Regions from separate parts of the Homo sapiens genome. Here region 2 is linked to region 1. The links come from fine-mapping of genetic effects on gene expression. A gene starts in region 1. The other region holds a variant in brackets. All regions are shown on one strand. Distances are between the middles of the regions.

The links. PIP is the estimated chance that this variant, and not a neighbour inherited with it, causes the effect. A credible set is the group of variants that fine-mapping cannot tell apart.
Region 2: its variant is the best candidate, but not a certain one, in a credible set for the expression of RTP1 in putamen (GTEx, PIP 0.77).

Annotation. Positions count from the first base shown.
Region 1 is chr3:187,194,553-187,199,935 of GRCh38, reverse strand. RTP1 (receptor transporter protein 1) reads right to left here and starts at 2,450. Exons shown (of 2, transcript NM_153708.3): 1 at 2,149-2,450; 2 at 1-385. The coding sequence starts at 2,420. LOC101929106 (a long non-coding RNA gene) reads left to right here. Exons shown (of 5, transcript NR_110052.1): 3 at 1-708; 4 at 1,234-1,409; 5 at 1,906-2,846.
Region 2 is chr3:187,171,966-187,177,348 of GRCh38, reverse strand. No RefSeq gene overlaps it. Among named protein-coding and RNA genes, the nearest start is that of RTP1, 23 kb to the left of the region's middle. RefSeq lists enhancers at 1-412, 624-1,454, 1,455-2,286. The variant A/G (reference allele first, on the strand shown) is at 3,229.

The sequences.
Region 1 (5,383 bases):
CCGGGAGAAGGTGTAGGTGGTCGCCTCCTCCTCCAGCAGCTTCTCGCTGGGCTTCCAGTGCACGATGCCCTCCTGGCAGGCCTCGCAGAACTCTCCGCGGTGCCGCCGGTTGTCCTGGCGGCTGGCCACGTGGATGCGGTACTGGCCGCCACGCTCGCCGTAGCACTGCTCGCGCAGGCTGGTGATGAGGTTGTCCACCAGGCCCTCGATGTTCTCCTCCAGCATGCTGGACTCGTCCAGCCGCGCCGTGCCGCACTCATAGCACAGCTGCTTGAAGACGCGCATGCGCACCGAGCCCGCCCGCTGGGCGCGGTCCAGGAACATGTGGAAGAGGATGACCACGTAGGGCGACTGCCAGGTGTGCCAGCACCAGGAGCAGTGGAACCTGCGGAGACGGGAGGAGAGGGAGGAATAGAAGACGGGCGGAGGTGGTGGAAACAGCCCTAGGAATGGCGTGAGGGGACGTGGAGGCTAAGCAGAGCCTGGAGGTGGAGGAAGTGTGTTGCCGGCGCCCTGGGTTCATTAGCTTTCCCCAGGAAGCCACTCAGCCTTGCAAGTGCCCCTAGGACTACAGCAGGTTCCTCAGGATGTCACCGGGCATCCAGCAGTGCTCTACCTCCTCAGTGCTTTCCAGAGGCCTAACTCCCACCACCCCAGCATTGGGCGTCATTCTTATTCCTCATGGGCAAAATGCGCTTGGTGCACTAGGTGAGTCCTTCCTTCTCACACCAGATAAGAAACACATAATCCATCTGCACATTTCTATCTGTTAACACTGACTGTGAACAGGCTAGATCCAAATTAGGAGAAAATGACACCATTACTAGCTATCAACGTCCAGGCCAGTGTCAGAGTTAATGCATCACAAGGCCTGGAGGTGGAGGCAGTCTGTGCCCAGATCCCCAAGGCCTGTAGTCTCCCAGGCCTGACTGGGGCCAGCTGGGGATTACAGGTCCCCAGCCAGGTCTGGGGCAGCCACAAGCCCTCCCCACTCAGCCCCCACAGCCTTCCAGGTCTTCAAGAAGCTCCTGATCCTGCCTGTAAGTGTCCAGCCCTTGACACCCCTCCTGTCAGCCAGTTTAGGAGCTTCACATTTTCATTCTCTTCTTGTTCACACATCTTTTGGGGACTGTTTCCTCTCTCAGACCAGACTACAAAACCTGGATTGAAAAATGTCGTAACTAGAGGGACCTGGAAATCACCTAATTAATGTTTTCTTTTATGCTGAGACAGAGTGAGAGAGGCATCCATGTACACACAGCTAGAGGCAGAACCGGCGCCCAGCACGTAACAGGTGCCCAGTAATGTTTCCTGAATTGAAGTGAATTGGCTGAACCAGGGCAAGCAGGAAGGCCTTGCTTCTGACTTCCAGGCTGCACCACTCAGCCTCCCCATCTTATGTCTCAAAGGTAAGCCCCTACACTCTGGACCCATGAACAAGAGTGCTAGAAATTCATCTCAGATAGTTTTTACATACTAATCACCTAGAACTCTTCTTGAAATCAGATTCTGATTCAGATCTAAAAGGGGCCCAAGATTCTGCTTTCTTAACAAATTCCAGGTGATGCCGATCCTGCTGCTCTGTGGACCACAGGCTAACCTCTCACTGTGCAAAAGGAGAAAGCCAGGTCCAAGAAGAAAATCGAGTTCCTCAACAGCCATGGAGCCAATGATAGAGCCAGTTTCTGGCACATCTCATGTATTCAATATTTTAAGTGAAATTAAGTTGAGTTAAATAGATTTAAACCGGTCCCAGGACCAGAGCACGGACGTCTCGACCCCCAGTGGGCCTCAAACCCTTCTTCTCTGGTTTTAAACTACTTTTTAAGAGACTGTTAAAATAGAAAATATGTAAAATGTCAGTGTGTAGGACTCATACGTATATTCTATGTCTTTATTTTCCAGACGGAAAAATTGTGACTCAGAGAGGAAGAGTAACACAGGTGATCAGTAGAAGAGCTGAAATCCAACTCAAGTGTCGTAGTTCCCAGTTAGGGACTCTTTCTCTGACTTCCAGTCTACGCCAGCCTAATAGTGAGATTGAAGCTAAACACTTGGGTTCTACGTAATCTTCCTCTCCTTGGAAGGTGCCCCAGAGCTAGGGACCTAGAGGCGGCCTGCAGGGATCCACCTTCCTGGGCTACTCACCTGCCTGAAGCATGCAATTCCAGGTACTGCTTCCAACCAGGGCTCAGCACATTGTGCTTGAGGTTGGGGTCTATGATGAGGTCCCAGCTGTCAGCCGGCTTTGCCTCCTCCATCTTCTCATAGAAGACTTTCTTCCACTCATCTGTGGTCACGCTTTTACACATGGTCTCGTCAGTAGTGAGGGAAGGCAATTTCCACCTTAGTGAGAACACGGAGAGTGAGGGTAGGTGCAGGGCAGGGCAGCGCAGTCTCCACGGTCTAAAAATCCTCATCGACAAGACCAGGAGGAAGCAGGACCCAGCTCCCTCCTTTGTCCGCAGTGGAACCTGTTTCCACGGCAACCAGGCAGGTTGCCAGAAGACAGAGCTTGGGGAGGAGGGAGTCTCTGAAGAGGTGTTTCAAGGCCCTGAACTGAGATTGCAGAGGCAGAGTTTGTGGGTCTAAATGATCCAAGACAGAGTGGGGGACCTGACCAGAGATTGAGCTTCAGACCATCTCACCCTGGCCTGGAAAGAGTATGGGGAGGTGAGGACTGGGAACTGGCTCAGTTTCACCTTGCCGTCCCCTGGAGGCATCATCAGCATCTGGCTGCTACGGTAACCATGATGCCTTAGGCAGCCAAGGAGAAATGAGGGATGGGGAGATGTAAATTTGTTAGTAGATGGAGCAATAATAATAAACTCTCTCTCGGCTTCCCCAGCCATCTTGTGACCAGCACTTTGCCATTTTCAAAACACAATTGGAGGTCTCTTAAGTTATGATTACTATTGCTGCAGTACAGATCAGGAGCCTAGGACTCACCTAGCCTATAAATGGCGGAGCCTGTATACAAATTCAAGCTGTTGACCCCAGACCGGTTCATTAATTCATTCATTTCAAACATATCCGAGCATGTGGGTAGGGTTTGCAGACATGTGCCAAGCTCTATGTCAGTGCTTGTAGCTGACTGTGTACTGAATAACTGTGCAATAGGATCCATGCTGCAATGGCCTTGTGCAAGAACAGCCACCTGTGCACAAAGGTAGGAGCATTGCATCAGCCAGGCAGGAGCAGACAAGATTATTTCCAAGCTGATTATAGAAGCGCAGAAGAGGAGCACCACCCACAGGCAAAACAGCCTTTACTATACATGCCTCTGCTGCTATTTTTAATAAATTATTTTTCCTTTTAAAAAATCATATGGGTTTATTCTAGAAAAAATACAAAATATAGATGAAAGAAAAGAGAAGTAAGACTCTTCCATAAAACCCCACCCGAGATGACTACTGTTAACATTACGATATGTACATCCCGCTTACCATTTTTCTGTACATGTACAAGTGTATGTGTGTGTATATACACACACATTCTGTACACCACATACATTCTATATACCACATTGTGACATTTTCAAAAAATAATACGTCATGAATATTTTTCTAGGTCATATTCCGTAGTAGTACATTATGGGCTACCTATATTCTGTTATATGGATAGGCATAATTTATTTAGCCAATCCTGTCTTTTAGGGCATTTTGGTTTTATTTCAGTTTCTCACATTACACTCTTCCCATCTATTTGTATAAACTTGTTGACGAAGCTCATCGCATGCATTAGAAACAACACTTCCTACAATTGGAAAACACGTCTCTTGACTCCACTCTCTCCAAAAGCTTGGTGTGGCTAGCAGAATCTGAGCAGGCTCTTCAAACAGTATGAATTTTGGACAGCCAGCAGATCTTGAAGTTTAGTGATGAAAAAGAGGGACTTAAAATCACCCATCTGATACCAGAAACCATCTTCCAAGTGCTTCTCCTGCCGCTTCATGGATGTTTGATGCCTTGATTTACACTATTTTAACCTCAGTTTATTCATCTTCTCAGTGGGATAATAACAAAACAGTATCTGCTGTGATTAAAAGCAGGGGCTTTAGAATGGCTTGCCTGGTTGTGGTGTTGTTGTTGTTGTTGTTGTTGTTACAGAGTCTCGCTCTGTTGCCCAGGCTGGAGTGCAATGGCACAATCTCGACTCACTGCAACCTCCACCTCCCAAGTTCAAGTGATTCTCTTGCCTCAGCCTCCCAAGTAACAGGGATTACAGGCATGCGTCACCACACCTGGCTGATTTTGTATTTTCCGTAGAGATGGGATTTCACCATGTTGGCCAGGCTGGTCTCAAACTCCTGACCTCAGGTGATCTGCCTACCTTAGCATCCCCAAGTGCTGGGATTACAGGCATGAGTCACCGTGCCTGGCTGCTTTTACAAAAAAAAAAAAATTTCCATATAGACTCATAGGTAGCAATTCTAATGTATATAATCTGTATCTTTTCATCCTAGTAAAAAATACGTGTTAATGTTTTATGTGAATATAATTTTAATTTGCATAGTAACAGCAATCACCATATAGCACTTACTATATAGCAATCACTATACAGCACTTACCTGGTAAGTGCTTAGAAAGCATTGTTCTGGTGCTTTATAAATATTAATTTATTTCATTCAATAACAAACTTGACAGGTAGGTAACAGCAGCAGCAGCTCCATTTTACAGATATGTGAGCTAAAGTCTAGAGGTTAGATAACTTGCACAAGATTTAACAGCTAATAACTAGTTGAACTGGGACTTAAACCTATATGACTGTCTACAAAGCCCCAGCTTTAGCCATTGTGATGCTCAGCGTGGAATCTAGAACATAACATCTGCTAATTAAATGTGTGTTTCTTCATCACTCACGTGGCCGTTACAGACCCCAAGAATTGCAAATGAAGTTTATATCATTTCAGCAAATGGTTCACTGGGGCCCCCCCACACTGAGGCCACATCTCCCCAGAAGAGGGGTGAGTTGTACTTGACCCACCAGGCTCCCTGCTACTGCTGGGGATGCTGCCTCTACTGCCAAACTTAATGAAGCAATGGTGTCCACAGACCCCTGATACTCGGTATAAATATTTTAGAGCTGAGAGAGATATTTAGCTTGAAATCTTACCAAAGAAAATATGGTACAGAAAGTCATCTCTAGGCACAGCAACCCTGTAAAGCCTCAATCATTTGATGCCAGGCATCTTGGCTCAATGGAGAGAGCACTGAACTGGGAGTCAGGAGACACATAGCCCAGCTCTGCTCCTGGCTGACATTGTGACCTTGGGCAAGCCACTAATTTCCCTTGGCCTCAGTTTGTCCATCTGTTCAATGAAGAATTAGGGTAGATGACAAAGGTAAGCTCCCCTCTAACTTCAGTCATGTATGGTTTCAAA
Region 2 (5,383 bases), 23 kb after region 1:
CACCTGACATTCACCCCATTTCCCCAAATTTCCTTCTTTCCTGTTCCTCACCCTGATCATGCTTGATTTATTGATGGCAGTTCCACCAGGCCTAATCGCCACAAACCGGCAAAGGCAGGTTATGCTATAGTACAAGCCACTAGCCCGCCTCTTAGAACCTCTCATTTCCTTTCCATCGTGGAAATCTATCCTCAAGGAAATAACTTCTCAGTGTTCCATCTGCTATTCTACTACTCCTCAGGGATTATTCAGGCCCCCTGCCTTCCCTACACATCAAGCTCAAGGATTTGCCCCACCCAGGACTGGCAAATTAGCTTTACTCAACATGCCCTGAGTCAGATAACTAAAATACCTCTTAGTCTAGGCAGACAGTTTCACTGGATAGGTAGATTCCTTTCCTACAGGGTCTGAGAAGGCCACCACGGTCATTTCTTCCCTTCTGTCAGACATAATTCCTCAGTTTAGCCTTCCCACCTCAATACAGTCTGATAACAGACAAGCCTTTATTAGTCAAATCAGCCAAGCAGTTTTTCAGGCTCTTAGTATTCAGTGAAACCTTTATATCCCTTACGGTCCTCCGTCTTCAAGAAAAGTAGAATGGACTAAAGGTCTTTTAAAAACACACCTCACCATGCTCAGCCACCAACTTGAAAAGGACTGGACAATACTTTTACCACTTTCCCTTCTCAGAAGTCAGACCTGTCGTCAGAATGCTACAAGGTACAGCCCATTTGAGCTCCTGTATAGACGCTCCTTTTTATTAGGCCCCAGTCTCATTCCAGACACCAGACCAACTTAGACTGTGCCCCCAAAAAAACTTGTCATCCCTACTATCTTCTGTCTAGTCATACTCCTATTCACCATTCTCAACTACTCATACATGCCCTGCTCTTGTTTACACTGCCGGTTTACACTGTTTTTCCAAGCCATCACAGCTGATATCTCCTGGTGGTATCCCCAAACTGCCACTCTTAACTCTTGAAGTAAATAAATAATCTTTGCTGGCAGGACTATGCTGAATCTCCTTAGGCACTCTCTAATCAGATATCCTGAGTCGTCCCAATTCTTAGACCTTTTATACCTGTTTTTCTCCTTCTGTTATTCCATTTAGTTTCTCAATTAATCCAAAACCATATTCAGGCCATCACCAATCATTCTATACGACAAATGTTTCTTCTAACATCCCCACAATATCACCCCTTACCACAAGACCTCCCTTCAGCTTAATCTCTCCCACTCTAGGTTCCCACGCCACCCCTAATCCCGCTTGAAGCAGCCCTGACAAACATCGCCCATTCTCTCTCCATATCACCCCCCAAAAATTTTCGCCGCCCCAACACTTCAACACTATTTTGTTTTATTTTTCTTATTCATATAAGAAGGCAGGAATGTCAGTCAGGCCTCTGAGCCCAAGCCAAGCCATCGCATCCCCTGTGACTTGCACTTATATGCCCAGATGGCCTGAAGTAACTGAAGAATCACAAAAGAAGTGAATATGCCCTGCCCCACCTTAACTGATGACATTCCACCACAAAAGAAGTGTAAATGGTCGGTCCTTGCCTTAAGTGATGACATTACCTTGTGAAAGTCCTTTTCCTGGCTCATCCTGGCTCAAAAAGCACCCCCCACTGAGCACCTTGCGACCCCCACTCCTGCCCGCCAGAGAACAAGCCCCCTTTGACTGTAATTTTCCTTTACCTACCCAAATCCTATAAAACGGCCCCACCCTTATCTCGCTTCGCTGACTCTCTTTTCAGACTCAGCCCGCCTGCACCCAGGTGAAATAAACAGCCATGTTGCTCATACAAAGCCTGTTTGGTGGTCTCTTCACACAGATGCGCGTGAAAACTATGTTCAGCTGATTTTTGTATTCTTAGTAGAGACAGGGTTTCACCATGTTGGTCAGGCTGGTTTCGAACTCCTGACCTCAGGTGATCCACCCACCTCGGCCTCCCAAAGTGCTGGGATTACAGGCGTGAGCCACCACACTCAGCCATGCCTAGGCTGTTTTTACATCTCATGCTGGGAGGAAACTGACAGACCCTACTGCTGTTTTCCTCCCACCCCAGACAACTGCTTTGTTCAGTGGTTGTGGCGAGTTAGAAACCGGGGATGGCATGGCCTAGAGAGAGGAATAGGGGGAGGGGAGTGTCAAATCTGCTATTTGACATCGTCATGACCAGCCTTGCCATTTTGTTTCACAGGTCAAAGTGAGTGTTATCGCCCGAAAGTTTGTCATTCGAAGCTCCTCCATGTCTCACTTAGTGAGAATTTTTCCAGACATTGGCAAGTGGTCTGTTGCCATCTTTAATTCTCAATGCTGTGGCAAAATGTGTTTTTACGGCCTGGTGTGGTAGCTCATGCCTGTAATCCTAGCACTTTGGGAGGCCAAGGCAGGTGGATTGCCTAAGCTCAGGAGTTCGAGACCAGCCTGGGCAACATGCTGAAACCCCGTCTCTACTAAAATACAAAAAGTTAGCCAGGCGTGGTGGCATGCACCTGTAATCCCAGCTACTCGGGAGGCTGAGGCAGAAGAATTGCTAGAACCCGGGAGGTGGAGGTTGCAGTGAGTCGAGATCAGGCCACTGCACTCCAGCCTGGGTGACAGAGCGAGACTCCATCTCTTAAAAAAAAAAAAAAATGTGCTTTTACGCATTTCGGTGGGAAGTAGAGATGGAATATCAAGGATGGTTAGAATGATGGTACATTCCCATGTTTTAAAAAGAGACGGTTGGCAGCCCGGAGTCTGGACTGAAATGAGGAGAAACAGTAAAGTGGCTTTTTGAAGGCCATAACTGAGGCAGGAGAATGGCTTGAACCCGGCAGGTGGAGGTTGCAGTGAGCCAAGATCGCGCCACTGCACTCCAGCCAAGGCAACAGAGCAAGACTCTGTCAAAAAAAAAAAACAAAAACTTTCACTTTGGAGTGAGGCAGACAAAGCTGACTCCACCACTTAACTGGGCCTGTAACTTTCAAGGAGTTGGTATCCTCTAACGCCTTATTCCCTCTTTTGGCTGCTGGAGGGAGGCAGGTAATTATTGCTATCTCCCAGGGTTCTTATGAGGATAAAGGAGATAAATATATGGAAATTTTACATTTACTCTTAAAACCTTGAGGTGAAACCACAGCAGTGAGCAGGAAAAGAGGGAGCTGCCCTCAGGGCAAATGCTAATATCAACACAACAATCCAGAGCTGGACTTTGAGCAGAGGGAGAGCAGAATCAACTC[A/G]GGTTCCCGGATTATGCCTGACACAAGGAAAGGGATTAAAGGAATTGCAGGTCTGTAGCTGTCCAAGGCTGTTGCAAACACAAGCCCAAATCTTCTCTGGAAGAAAGAATCCTGAATTCAGCAACAAGGTTTTCCACAGACTGAAATAAACTAAATCAAGGATTACAAAACCCTTCTCTCAGGGAATGCATTTCCAGTCAGCTCTCAACGCCATCAGGGACTTGGCCCAGAAGGCTTCTTTCCAGTGAATGAATTCTGTGCACGGCAGGATCTGTCTTCTCCTCGGGCTTTGATCTGGGGCAACCTGACCTCAGTTTCTCCTTAGAGGGCAGCCATGCTTGCTAACATTTTGATGCCCCGGACTATTCTGTTTAGCTAATGCATTGGCTTTGCTAACAATCAGATTTTACTTTCTGTTGCTATGGGTTTTTTTCTTCTTTTTTAGATATTTTGCCTGTGATCTATATAATTTTATGCCAGAAGACTTGGACTCAAGCATTAAGATGTAAGTGGACATCTGGTGTGACTCAGTCTTGCCTTGTAGGTCTGCTTATAATTAGAAAGAGGCATACCTACATTATAGGGATATGGGTGGGCTTCAGTTAGTACACAGGCTACAGCATTTATATTAATTCATACATAACTTATTTCACACCAACAGCCAACTTAAATCTCAGTATTGTATTATCTGTAAACTCTCAGGTGTTTTCATTATGAAGACTTGATGCCCTATGGAAGTCACAGTCCATATAGATCAGTCTCTATGTGGTGTCATGTTCAAGATACACAGTATAAGAGCCAGAAAAGCAATTATAGAAGAATTTTATTAACTTGCTTTTCCAAAAGAAGATGAGAGTGGATCAGACTCACAAGTTGTAGCAACACTTCTCATATTCCTATGTCTCTTCCCCTCTACTTCTTCCCTTCTGTGTCCCCCAGCACCTTTCGTTTGCTGCCTCCCCCTCTCCACCATGTTGTTCACCTTCAGCCTCCCTCGCCTCCACTTTTCTCACCTCCTATCCCTCCAACTTTCTCCCTGGGTCATTCTCCCTGCCATAAAATCCTTCTTGATCCATTCTTACAAAAGTCTGTAGAGACTGGTCTAGCAATGACAAATGTAGGGAGTGAGGGATGAGAAAAGCATGTGGAAGAGTGGGGAAAGGTCCATCCAGCAATTGCATTCACTTTGGTGGAGTGGGGGGAAAAGGGAAATTTGTGGATAATCCCTGATGAATATTAATTTTTATAACAGAGTCTTATGCCTATAAAAGATAGATATTTATATAATTATAAATGTATGTTACTTAGTGCTTCATATTATTATTATAATAAATATTAAAAGTAATTTATGCCCCAATGTTCTTTTTATAAAAAAGTTTAAAGTAGCTTTCAAAGATGCATACAACATAATAATATGTTCTATTTTTAAAACAGTCAAAAATATCTAACAAAATAATACATGCATTTCCCTTTGACCCAGCAATCCTATGTCTAGAAATTTATGCCTAACATATGTTGACAAAAACAGAAAATGATATACACAAATCGCTATTCAGTACTATGTTGTTTGTAGCAGTCGGAATTGGAAACAACCTAAACTGTACGGCATACCTTACCTATGGTAAGATACAAGAGGAATAAAATATGAAACACCACCCAGTAAAGAACTATGGAGCTAAACAAAAGAATGAGGATAATCTCTATAAACCATTATGGAGTGATATCCAGGATAGCCTCTCAACTAAAAAACAAAAAAAGGAAAAGAAAAAACCAAGGGGCAGAACTGTATATAAAGATTGCTACCTTTCCTCGAAGGATGAAAGATACATATTTGACTATATTAAAAATAAATGGAAAGATAAGTTAAAAACTAAGGAATATTATTGTTCACTGGGGAGGAGGGAACAGGGTAGAGGAGACACAGGTAGAACACAGATATTTCTAAATGTGCTTTGTTGTGTTGTGTTGTTTTGGGTCCATGTTATTTTTTACATAATTATAAAACAAAAAAATTGAATTTTTAAAAATTCTGAAAACTTGGGGAAAAAATTAACCTAACATTATGAAATCTGTGGCTTACTCAATGGTGAATTATTTCAAATGACTTTAAAACATAATAATTTGACTGTTTCCATATATCTCATGGAGGCTGAAG